2 separate regions of the Homo sapiens genome follow, and region 2 is linked to region 1. The links come from fine-mapping of genetic effects on gene expression. A gene starts in region 1. The other region holds a variant in brackets. All regions are shown on one strand. Distances are between the middles of the regions. Region 1 holds the start of ACYP2 (acylphosphatase 2). Region 2 has its middle 3.1 kb from the start of PSME4.

Evidence for each region.
Region 2: its variant is fine-mapped to the expression of ACYP2 in monocytes after LPS (Fairfax 2014, PIP 0.92).

The regions. Positions count from the first base shown.
Region 1 is chr2:54,112,497-54,117,878 of GRCh38, forward strand. ACYP2 (acylphosphatase 2) reads left to right here and starts at 3,119. Exons shown (of 4, transcript NM_138448.4): 1 at 3,119-3,260. The coding sequence starts at 3,203. RefSeq lists silencers at 2,948-3,017, 3,508-3,567.
Region 2 is chr2:53,971,403-53,976,724 of GRCh38, forward strand. It overlaps a transcript of ACYP2 not described here. Among named protein-coding and RNA genes, the nearest start is that of PSME4, 3.1 kb to the left of the region's middle. RefSeq lists an enhancer at 60-109. The variant C/T (reference allele first, on the strand shown) is at 2,596.

The DNA.
Region 1 (5,382 bases):
AACTTCAATTAAAAATATGTGGGAAGGAAGCTACATGCATAAATATTTTCTTTTTTATGGTAGTGAAAAATGAGAAGCAGCCTGAATATGTAACAACAGGGACTCACAGTAGGTAAATGTGTGGTTTATCCACCTAATGTGATTTATTAAAATATTCATTGGAAAGACTACAACATGGAAAAGAAGAATAAAAGTTGCATTCATACTATAATTACTTAAAACATATATTAGAAACATTTGCGTACATTTTCTAAAGACTTAGAATCACATATTATTGGCAATCCATGCCGAAATGGTACATAAAAATTTCCGTTTGCTAATGTTAGACTGCTGGCAGACACAGCAAATTTTTCAGCTAAGCAAATGTCAATTGTTGCTATAGCACTTCTAAAATTCAAATAAACCTACCTAATAATTGGCAGGGGTACTCTTGGGTAAATGTGGAGAAAAGTCAAAGATTAAGAAAAGGAAAATGTCAACCTTCCCAGTCAGTGACTACTTAGAAGCTATGCTATAGTTGTCCGTTGTTATCTGCAGGGGATTGGTTCCAGGAATCCCCTTGGATATAAAAATCCTGGAATGTTCAAGTTCCTAATAGAAACATACATACACATATTGTCCTGTATGTTTTAAGTCATCTCTAGATTATTTAAAATACCTAATGCGATGTAAATGCTATTATACTGTATTGTTCAGGGAATGATGACAAGAAACAAGAGTCTGCATGAGTTCAGTAGAGATGACTTTTTTTTTTTTTTTTGGAGACAGGGTCTCGCTCTGTCACCCAGGCTGGAGTGCAGTGGCCCCATCTCGGTTCACTGCAACCTCTGCCTCCTGGGCAAAAGTGATCCTACTCCCACCTCAGCCTCCCAAGTAGCTGGGACTACAGGCACAGGCCACCACAGCCAGGTAATTTTTGTATTTTTTATAGAGGCGGGGCTTCACTGTATTGTCCAGGCTGGTCATCTCTAACTCCTGGGCTCAAGCTGTTCGCCAGCCTTGGCCTCCCAACATGTTGGGATTACAGGTGTGAGCCACCGTGCAGGCCAAGATACTTAAAAAAAAAAATTCTGTTTGAGGTTGGTTGAATCTATGGATGCAGAACCTGCTAATATGGATGGCTGACTGTACTAGTGGGGAAGGCACACTAAATAACTAGGATAAAATCTGGTAACCACTCGCAGAGATGACTGAGCGGGATAGAGGAAGATTTTGGAGAAGGGGGAGGCATTCCAGATAGAGTAGACCCAAGAGAAGAGGTTCTTTGTTTTAAACCTCTGTACTGAGAGAGCAGAATAACCGAGAGTGTCTTGACTATAGTTTAAATGCAGGATTTGCATAAGCAGGTAGTGGAGGCTGAAGACCTTAGGTTCTATTTTGAACGTATTAAGAAGAATGATTTAAAATTTATGTTGATTCTAGAGTCTGCATGGAATGAACTGGGAGATGGAAGAGTTAAGTTACGAGGTCTCTGCAATAAACTAAGACCTTCACTACATAAATTAACTGCACTAGCATTTCCAGAATATATTTTACTTTAAAAATGATTTAACCATATTCTAACCAAGTTTTGGATGATTTTTGGTGTTCTCTAATAGAATTGGCACAGTATATTGAATCAGATTGCAGTGGATTATTTTAACTGTGTGGCCAGATGCAGAGAAATATGCCAAGGTATTGAGGCCAACAAATAGAGAAATGCAAATTCTCACAAGTAAACAGATTTGGAATTCTAGAAGGTGGCAGATTATCAATAGCTGTATCCAGATCCTTTGGAGTGGTGGATGGTTTTATATTAAAACTTGGTAATAGCTCACCAGGAAATAAAATTCAGCCTTAACCTTCTAGGCAATTGGGATGTTGCTGAGAATAATCAAGACAATCAAAAAAAAAAAAAAAAAAAAAGGTCGGGTGTGGTGGCTCACACCTGTAATCCCAGCACTTTGGGAGGCCGAGGCAGGTGGATCACCTGAGGTCAGGAGTTTGAGACTAGCCTGGACAACATGGTGAAACCCCGTCTCCACTAAAAATACAAAAATTAGCTGGGTGAGGTGGCGCATGCCTGTAATCCCAGCTACTTGGAAGGCTGAGGCAGGACAATTTCTTGAACCTGGGAGGTGGAGGCTGCTGTGAGCTGAGATTGCACTACTGCACTCCAGTCTGGGAGACAAGAGCGAAACTCCGTCTCAAAACAACAGCAACAAACCCACACCAAAAAAACTGTATGAACAGCAGACAAGATGACTACAGTGTTTTTCTTTTGTCTGTTTCCACTAGCATAAAAGACTTCATATTTTTAAAAAGTTTCTTATCCCAGAAAATATCACAATCCGTTTAGAATACGAGTTCAGGCTCAATTCCTTCCTGACTGTACAGAAGAGCTCAAGATGTTGCAGACCTTATCTTAAAAGCTGGCTTGGTAGTCACCTAAACATTTCATAAATAATTTACTAACTCTCAAAACACTAAACACGCAGGCCCTTGATTTCAAAAGCCAATCTTGCTGGGATGGAGTGGGGTGGGGGACCTGGGATGGGGGATGAAAGGGGTTGGAAATGGGGAGATATTGGTCAAAGGGTACAAAGTTTCAGTTAGTGTGAATAATAAGTTCTGAAGATCTGTTGTCTAACATGGTGACTGCGATAAATGTATTGTGTCCTTAAAAATTGATGAGAGTAGATCTTAAATGTTCTCTTCATTAAAAAATGGTGCAATGGATACGTTAATTTCATTGATGTAATCATTTCACAATGCATACATATGTCAAAACATCACCTTGTACACCACAAATATACCCAACTTTTATTTGTCAATTACACTTTAATAAAGCTGGGGGAAGCCACTCTTTTTTTGGGCACAGCATCCGGCTTTTATTTACTAACTTTGAGAACAGAGTACCTTGATCAATTAAATGGTAGGGAGCGCTGTGGAGACAGCATCCTCCCCAGTCCGGGAAGAGAGGCCTAGGATGCCTGGGGCCCAGCGGCCTCTTCCCTCCTGGCGTCCCCGGCTGCCCTCGCTCCCAGGCCCCGCAGTCTCATTTGCCGCTTCCGACGCGTGACCCCGGCGCGCTAGCGTCCGGGACCGGTGACAGGCGCGGGGTGCGCCAAGCAGTCCCATGTGTCCCCTCCCTCTCGCAGCCGCCGCAGTCGCTGCGCCCCGAGCCCCTCTCCGGCTCCTCAACAGAGGGCTCGCCGCCGCCATGTCTACCGCCCAGTCACTCAAATCCGTGGACTACGAGGTGTTCGGAAGAGTGCAGGGTAGGAGGCCCCTCTACGGTGGGAGATCAAAAAGGTTATGGGAGGAAGGGGAGAAAGCTGTGAGAAGCGCCTCCCACCTAAAGTATGCCTTTTCCCGTTGTGGCTGGGACTTCCGCTCCGCCATGACACAGCAGCGGCGGCGGGGAGGGAGGCGAAACGCGCATGCGCCCGAGGACTTGGACGGGCGGAAGTACGGGAATGGGGAGGGAAGTGGGGGAGCGGGAGAGGAGGGGTCAGGGGACTGCTGAGGACCAGAAGTGGGCGGCTGCTGGGTGCGGGAGTAAGCGGCACGGGGGAATGTTGAAGTTGGGTAGGAAAAGAAGAGGGTCTTTTAACTAGTGGTCTCGTTGCTTGCCACTGAAGCTACCTGGGCTTGACTTGAGTTTTAGGAAGGACACTTAGATGGTTTAAGGTTAATTTTTCAGAGGTCAAACCTTTTTTTAGACCTCTTTGTAGCTCTTAAAAGAATGAAATTGTTATCTAATTTTTGTTTCATCCTAAGTTTAAGTAGTTGCCAAGTTTGTAATGTCTGGCTTGTTGAAAATATTGATATTTATAAATGAAAATATTAAGTCACTCTGAGATTTATGCAATGGAATATAAATAGGGTAGTGATTTAACATCCACCATCTTCATTTAAAATAAAACTCTTCAACAATGGGAAATTTTACTCATTTCTTTTCCTCTTTGAATTTGATTTTCATTTCACTTTTCCCACCGAATTACCCCATTGTTTTGCTTGAGGGTTTTTTTTTTTTTTTTGCTCACCCTATCATACTTTTCTGCAATATGTATATGTACATATATGCACATGTATGAATAAGTGTAATGCTTTTTCTTAATTTCCTTTGACAATAAGGCTCTCTTAGAAACAAATGCTGGTTCTTTGGTGCCAAAAAGAAGAACTAGCGCTCAAAGAATTTTCTCAGCAAGGCAATTTTACCTCTATAGAAGGGTGCGACTCGCGGATGAAGCAATGGCAACGGCACACCTGAACAGGGGAGGGGAAGGGGTTCTTATTCCTGATGCAGGTAGCCTCTACTGCTGTGTCTTTCCCCTACTGGCTAGGGTTGGACCGCACAGTCTAAGCTAATTCCGACTGGCTATTTTAAAGAGCAGGCGTACGAGCTCAAGTGGCGGGGTGAATAATTTGGCAGGAAGGGTGGTTACAGAACAGGTGACTCAGGATGATTCAGGTCAGAGCAGGTGACCAGGGGTGACTCAGGATGGAGCAGGTGACCAGAGGAATAGAGGTGAACTACTGATTAGAACTGGTGGAAAAGGTTGTTTACTGAAACTAGAGGCGAGGAGAACGAGGAAGCTAGACTTTAGAGCGCAAAGAACCGAGCATACTGACATACTGATTCTTTGAAGAGAAATTTAGAACTCATTGTATTCAACAGCTCCAAGTATTAAATTTTTTGTCTGGATGGAGTTATTATTGAAATTATTATTAGAACACTAGATGAAAATATAAAAAGTATGATAAACATTATTAAAATTTAAAGGTAAATTTGTGTTAGAAGTTTATTTTTTTAATTTTATTTTTTTAAGAGATGGAGTCTTGCTCTGTCACCCAGACTGGAGCAAGTGCAATGGCACAATCATAGCTCACTGCAGCCTGGAACTCCTGGGCTCAAGTGATCTTCTGCCTCAGCCTTCTAAGCAGCTGGGACTACAGGCTCATGCCACCATGCATGACTAATTTTTAAAATTTTTTTGTAGAGAAAGGGTCTCTGTTGCCCAGGCAAGTCTCGAAATCCTGGCTTCAAGGGATCCTCCTGCACTTCGCCTCCCAAAGTGATGGGATTACAGGCGTGAGCCACTGCACTCAGCCAGAAATTTATTAATGAGAAGACTGGGGGTGTTTATGGAACCTCGGTTGGTGGAAGAGTTGAATTATCCTTGTATTTGGTACTCTAGAGGTTTTTACACTTTGGTGCAGTGTACCAGGGTAAGATTAAGAATGGGTAAAAGTGTGCCTTTTGTAAAGAGATCTTTTTTTAATTTAATTTTATTTTTATTTCCTATAGGTCTTTGGAGAACAGGTGGTGTTTGATTACATGAATAAGTTCATTACTGGTGATTTCTGAGATTTTGGTGCATCCATCACCCAAGCAGT
Region 2 (5,322 bases), 140 kb before region 1:
CTTATAGATTTATTTACTCCATCCCGCTTGTTCCTTATAGATTTAATTTTTCTGTCCCCTTTAAGTCCCCATCTTTCTGGTATTCTGGCCGCCATCATTCCAAAGAAGAAAATAGTTACTCGCTGAACAAATGCTATTTGAACAGCTGTTTTGTGTGTAAGGCGCTCAGTTTAGGCTATTGAGATAGAAAGTTTAACCTGGTTTCCGCCCTCCCAAGGACTTAGTCTAGCAGAGATAAAGACGTGAATTACAAGATAATGCTCTTAATTGCTAGATAAGTACAAGAATCCTTAGGAACTCTACAAAGAAGTTGAAACTAGGGGGTTTGAGAGGGTGTCATTTTCCTAGAAGTGATACTTAATTTAAGCTATGAAGGTTGAGTGCAAAGTTGGTTAGAAAAAGGAGGGAGGAGGACACGTATTTCAGCTGAGAGAACAGCTTTGACGCTGCAAGCATGTATTCTAAAAATTCAAAGTTCAAAATAGCGTAAGAGAGGGGACGGAGAAATGAGACTGAGAAGGCAATCCTAAGGAATTCAGAGCTTTATCCTAGAGACAAACTTCCAAAAGATTTTAAGCATAGCAGTGGGATGATATAATTTACATTTTTTAAGAATTACTCTGGCGGCCGGGCGCAGTGGCTCACGCCTGTAATCCCAGCACTTTGGGAGGCCGAGGCGGGCGGATCACGAGGTCAGGAGTTCGAGACCAGTCTGGCCAACATGGTGAAACCCCGTCTCTACTAAAAATACAAAAAAGTTAGCCGGGCGTGGTGGCGGACGCCTGTAATCCCAGCTACTCGGGAGGCTGAGGCAGGAGAATCGCTTGAAACCGGAAGGCGGAGGTTGCAGTGAGCCAAGATCGCGCCAGGGCACTCCAGCCTGGGCAACAAGAGCGAAACTCCGTCTCAAAAAATAAAAGGGCCAGGCGCGTGGTGGCTCACGCCTGTAATCCCAGCACTTTGGGAGGCCGAGGCGGGTGGATCACGGGGTCAGGAGATGGAGACCATCCTGGCTAACATGGTGAAACCCCGTCTCTACTAAAAATACAAAAAAATTAGCCGGGCATGGTGGCGGGCGCCTGTAGTCCCAGCTACTCGGGAGGCTGAGGCAGGAGAATGGCGTGAATCCGGGAGATGGAGCTTGCAGTGAGCCGAGATCGTGCCACAGCACTCCAGCCTGGGTGGCAGAGCGAGACTCCGTCTCAAAAAAAAAAAAGAGTCACTCTGGCTTCGTCTGGAAAATGGGTTGGAACTGACAAGATTGGGAACTGGAGGACCCTTTAAGGTGTGACATAATCATGGCCTGGATGTCAGTTGAAATTGAGAGCTACTTCAGCAGAATGGCTTGGGCTTAGTAGTTGACTGAAAGTGAAAAATTAAAAAGGAAAGAGACAAGACGACGCTGGGTAGATAGGTGAAGTCCTTCACTGAGATAAAGAACACAGCAGAAACAGCTTGGGAGGCAGAATGCCTATGGGATGGGTATGTTGACATATGTATCAGGAGGGTGATCTAAACTGAGATGCAGATTAGCGTGTAGATGGACGACAGGAGGGAAGGAAATATACAGTATGAAAAAATAGGGCCCTTCACAAATCTCTGAGGAGCCCCACATTTAAGGACAGACAGAGAAAAGGAAGGTAGGCCACAAAGAATATTCACAAAAAGCAGAGAGAGGAGGAGTTCTAGGAAACTGGGTGTCTCATGGAGAAGCGAACAATCCTACCTTAGGTAGCTAACAGGTCAAATGAAGTGAAACCTGAAAGGGTTTATTGGATAGTTTATTGATAAAGCGCATAAGAACAGTGTCGTTGGAGTGTAGAATAGAAATCTGATTATGGTGACAAAGGACAAATGGGAAGTGAATAAATAGAGGCAGCAAATATGGACAACCTTTTAAAAAATAATGGGGTAGGGAGAGCCGGAAAGAGATGAGTGTCAGGCCTCTGAGCCCAAGCTAAGCCATCATATCCCCAGTGACCTGCATGTATACATCCAGATGGCCTGAAGCAACTGAAGATCCACAAAAAAAGTGAAAATAGCCTTAACTGATAACATTTCACCATTGTGATTTGTTTCTGCCCCACCCTAACAGATGAATGTACTTTGTAATCTCCCCCACCCTTAGGAAGTTTCTTTATAATCTCCCCAACCCTTAAGAAGGTTCTTTGTATTTCTCCCCACCCTTGAGAATGTACTTTGTGAGATCCACCCCCTGCCCCCAAAACATTGCACTTAACTCCACCACCTATTCCAAAACCTATAAGAACTAATGGTAATCCCAACACCCTTTGCTGACTCCTTTTTCAGACTCAGCCTGCCTGCACCCAGGTGAAATAAACAGCCATGTTGCTCACACAAAGCCTGTTTGGTGGTCTCTTCCCACGGACGCGCGAGACAATGAGGAGGTACTTGGAATAAAAGGAGGGATTTTTGAATGTGGGATATATATATGTGTGTGTGTGTGTGTGTGTGTGTGTGTGTGTGTGTGTGTGTGTGTATATATTTTTTTTTTTTTTTTTTTTTTTGAGTCTCACTCTGTAGCCCAGTCTGGAGTGCAATGGATCCATCTCGGCTCACTGCAATCTCCGCCTC[C/T]GGGGTTCAAGTGATTCTTCTGCCTCAGCGCCTCGAGTAGCTGGGACCACAGGTGCGCACCACCACATCCAGATAATTTTTTTTTTTTCGGTATTTTTAGTAGAGACAGGCTTTCACCATATTGGCCAGGCTGGTCTCGAACTCCTGACCTCGTGATCCGCCCGCCTTGGACTCCCAAAGTGTTGGGATTACAGGCTTGAGCCACTGAGCCCGGCCATATTTAGATATATTTAAATATGGATGAAAAGGAGCCAGTGGAGAGAGAAGTTAAAGATATTGGGTGAGGACGACAAAGAGCGGAAGAGAATGTGGAGTCATTGACCTTTAGAAGCAAATCAAACTGTGCTTCCATTGTCAGAGGAGGAAAGCAGGGAAGGAAGCATAGGTGCAGATGCTGGAATGTTTGGTACTGGAAGTTGGAGAAGTTCTTTCTATAGTTTCTATTTTTTCCTATGAAACAAGACAATGAGAATTATAGGGAAGTGGTAGGTAGATTTGAGGAAATTGAAGAAGCCTTAGAGTAGTCTCAGAATTCAGAAAATTGATTTAAAAAGTTAGAATTGTTTGGCAGGTAAGGCTGGAAGCTTGAATTTACTATTATCTATCTGCACAATTTAATGATTTTTTCCCTAATACTGTTTAGTGGCCCAGGATTGTGTGACATACAGTATATACTAGTGACATACTAGTATAATAGAATGACAAAAGATCAAGATAATGTTTTTTATGTTGCCAGTAGTGATGGTAGTGTTAGCTATCATTCATTGAGCATTTCTGTCTGCCAGTGCTTTACCTACATTATCTCACTGAATTCTCTAGAGATAATTGAGTTGAGAATATTTGAAAGAGAGTGGTTAAAGTCTAAGTTTGGTTGACGTGTAAGTGAAGAGAGTAGAGAGCTAATAGGGAAGGAGAAGAGAGATGTCAAGACACTTACATGCTGATGAGCTATAAGGGAAAGATGAAAGGATTCGCCTGAGCAAGGGATCTAGAAGAATAGAAATGTTTGGATTTAAGATTTCGAAGAGACCAGCCTGGCCAATATGGTGACACCCCGTCTCTACTAAAAATACAAAAATTAGCCTGGCATGGTGGCGTGCGCCTGTAGTCCCAGCAACTCAGGAGGCTGAGGCAGAAGAATTGCTTGAACCCGGGAGGCAGAGGTTGCAGTGAGCTGAGATCACACCACTGCATTCCAACCTGGCGACAGAGCGAGACTCTGTCTCAAAAAAAAAAAAAAAAATTCAGAGAAGCAGTTCCAGATGACAATGAGCTCCCTAGAAACAAACATCTGAACTGGAAAAGTTGAAGAATTTACGGGAGCAAGCAAAATAAGGTCTCTTCCTCTTATTCTAAATAAAGTTTCATGGAGAACACTATTGAAATGCTTCCCAGTGAGAAAGTTAGAAGACCTTTCTTTCGGGGAGCTGGTCTGCTCATTAGTGGAGACAGTAACCCAAAGTCTGGGGTGGATTTTCTCTTCTCAGTCCAACTTGTTATCTCTTGAAGGTCAGGAGACACTGCCAAAGGATAACAGCACGTTATCCTTTTGAGGCTGGGCTGGGTGGCTCACGCCTGCAATCCCAGCACTTTGGAGAGACAAGGCAGGCGGATCACAAGGTCAGGAGATCAAGAGCATCCTGGCTACCACACTGAAACCCCGTCTCTACTAAAAATACAAAAAATTAGCTGGGTGTGGTGGCATGCACCTGTAGTCCCAGCTACTTGGGAGGCTGAGGCAGGAGAATCGCTTAAACCCGGGAGGCAGAGGTTGCAGTGAGCCAAGATCGCGCCACTGCACTCCAGCCTGGGTGACAGAGCGAGACTCTCAAACAAACAAACAAAAAAAACAGGATGTTATCCTTTTAACCAGACCTGGAGGGAGACACTGACTTCTTATCAGACCCTCAAGGAAACAGACTATAATCACTCTTCTTGCAAGACCCAGAAAATGCAGTGGCCCTTCAAAGAAAATATTCTAAAGAGAGAGGTTCCTTCTCCAGCTGGAGGGATTAGCAGAGACAATTTTCAATCAAATATTTATGTCTTTGATGTGCTTATTGGAACACTAATTAATCACTTATTAGCAGTGAACAAAAAATGACAGGTTATTAGTGTCACATCTTGCCCATCTTAGTTTTCTCTGTATATATGATATACTTGGGGCTAGAGATATATTGGCAAGTGAATGAATCTCTGTTGCCAGAAACATAATCTTTTTTTTCTTTTTTAGTCAGGGTTTCACTCTCTTACAGGCTGGAGTACAATGGCACAATCACAGCTCACTGCAGCCTCCACCTCCTGGGCTCAAGTGATTCTCCCACTTTGGCCTCCCAAGTAGCTGGGACTACAGGTGCATGCTACCATGTCCGGCTAATTTTTAATTTCTTGTAGAGATAGAGTCTCAATGTGTTGCCCGGGCAGGTCTTGAACTCCTGGACTCAAGCAATCTGCCCGCCTCAGCCTCCCAAAGTGCTGGGATTACAGGGGTTAGCCACCACACCTGGCCAGAAACGTAATCTTTAGAAGTATTTGAATTAGAATGATTCATTGCAATGTAATTAAATATCCAGACTTCTGCTGAATTGCAGTTATTAGAGGAACAAGAATATTAGATCTGGTCTGAAGATTTGGGAGGAAAAAAAGAATATTAGATCTGAGAAATGTTGAGTTTTTTCTAGTTCCTGTAGGATTTTTAAGTTTTGAATTTTTCCTTCAAAAATCATT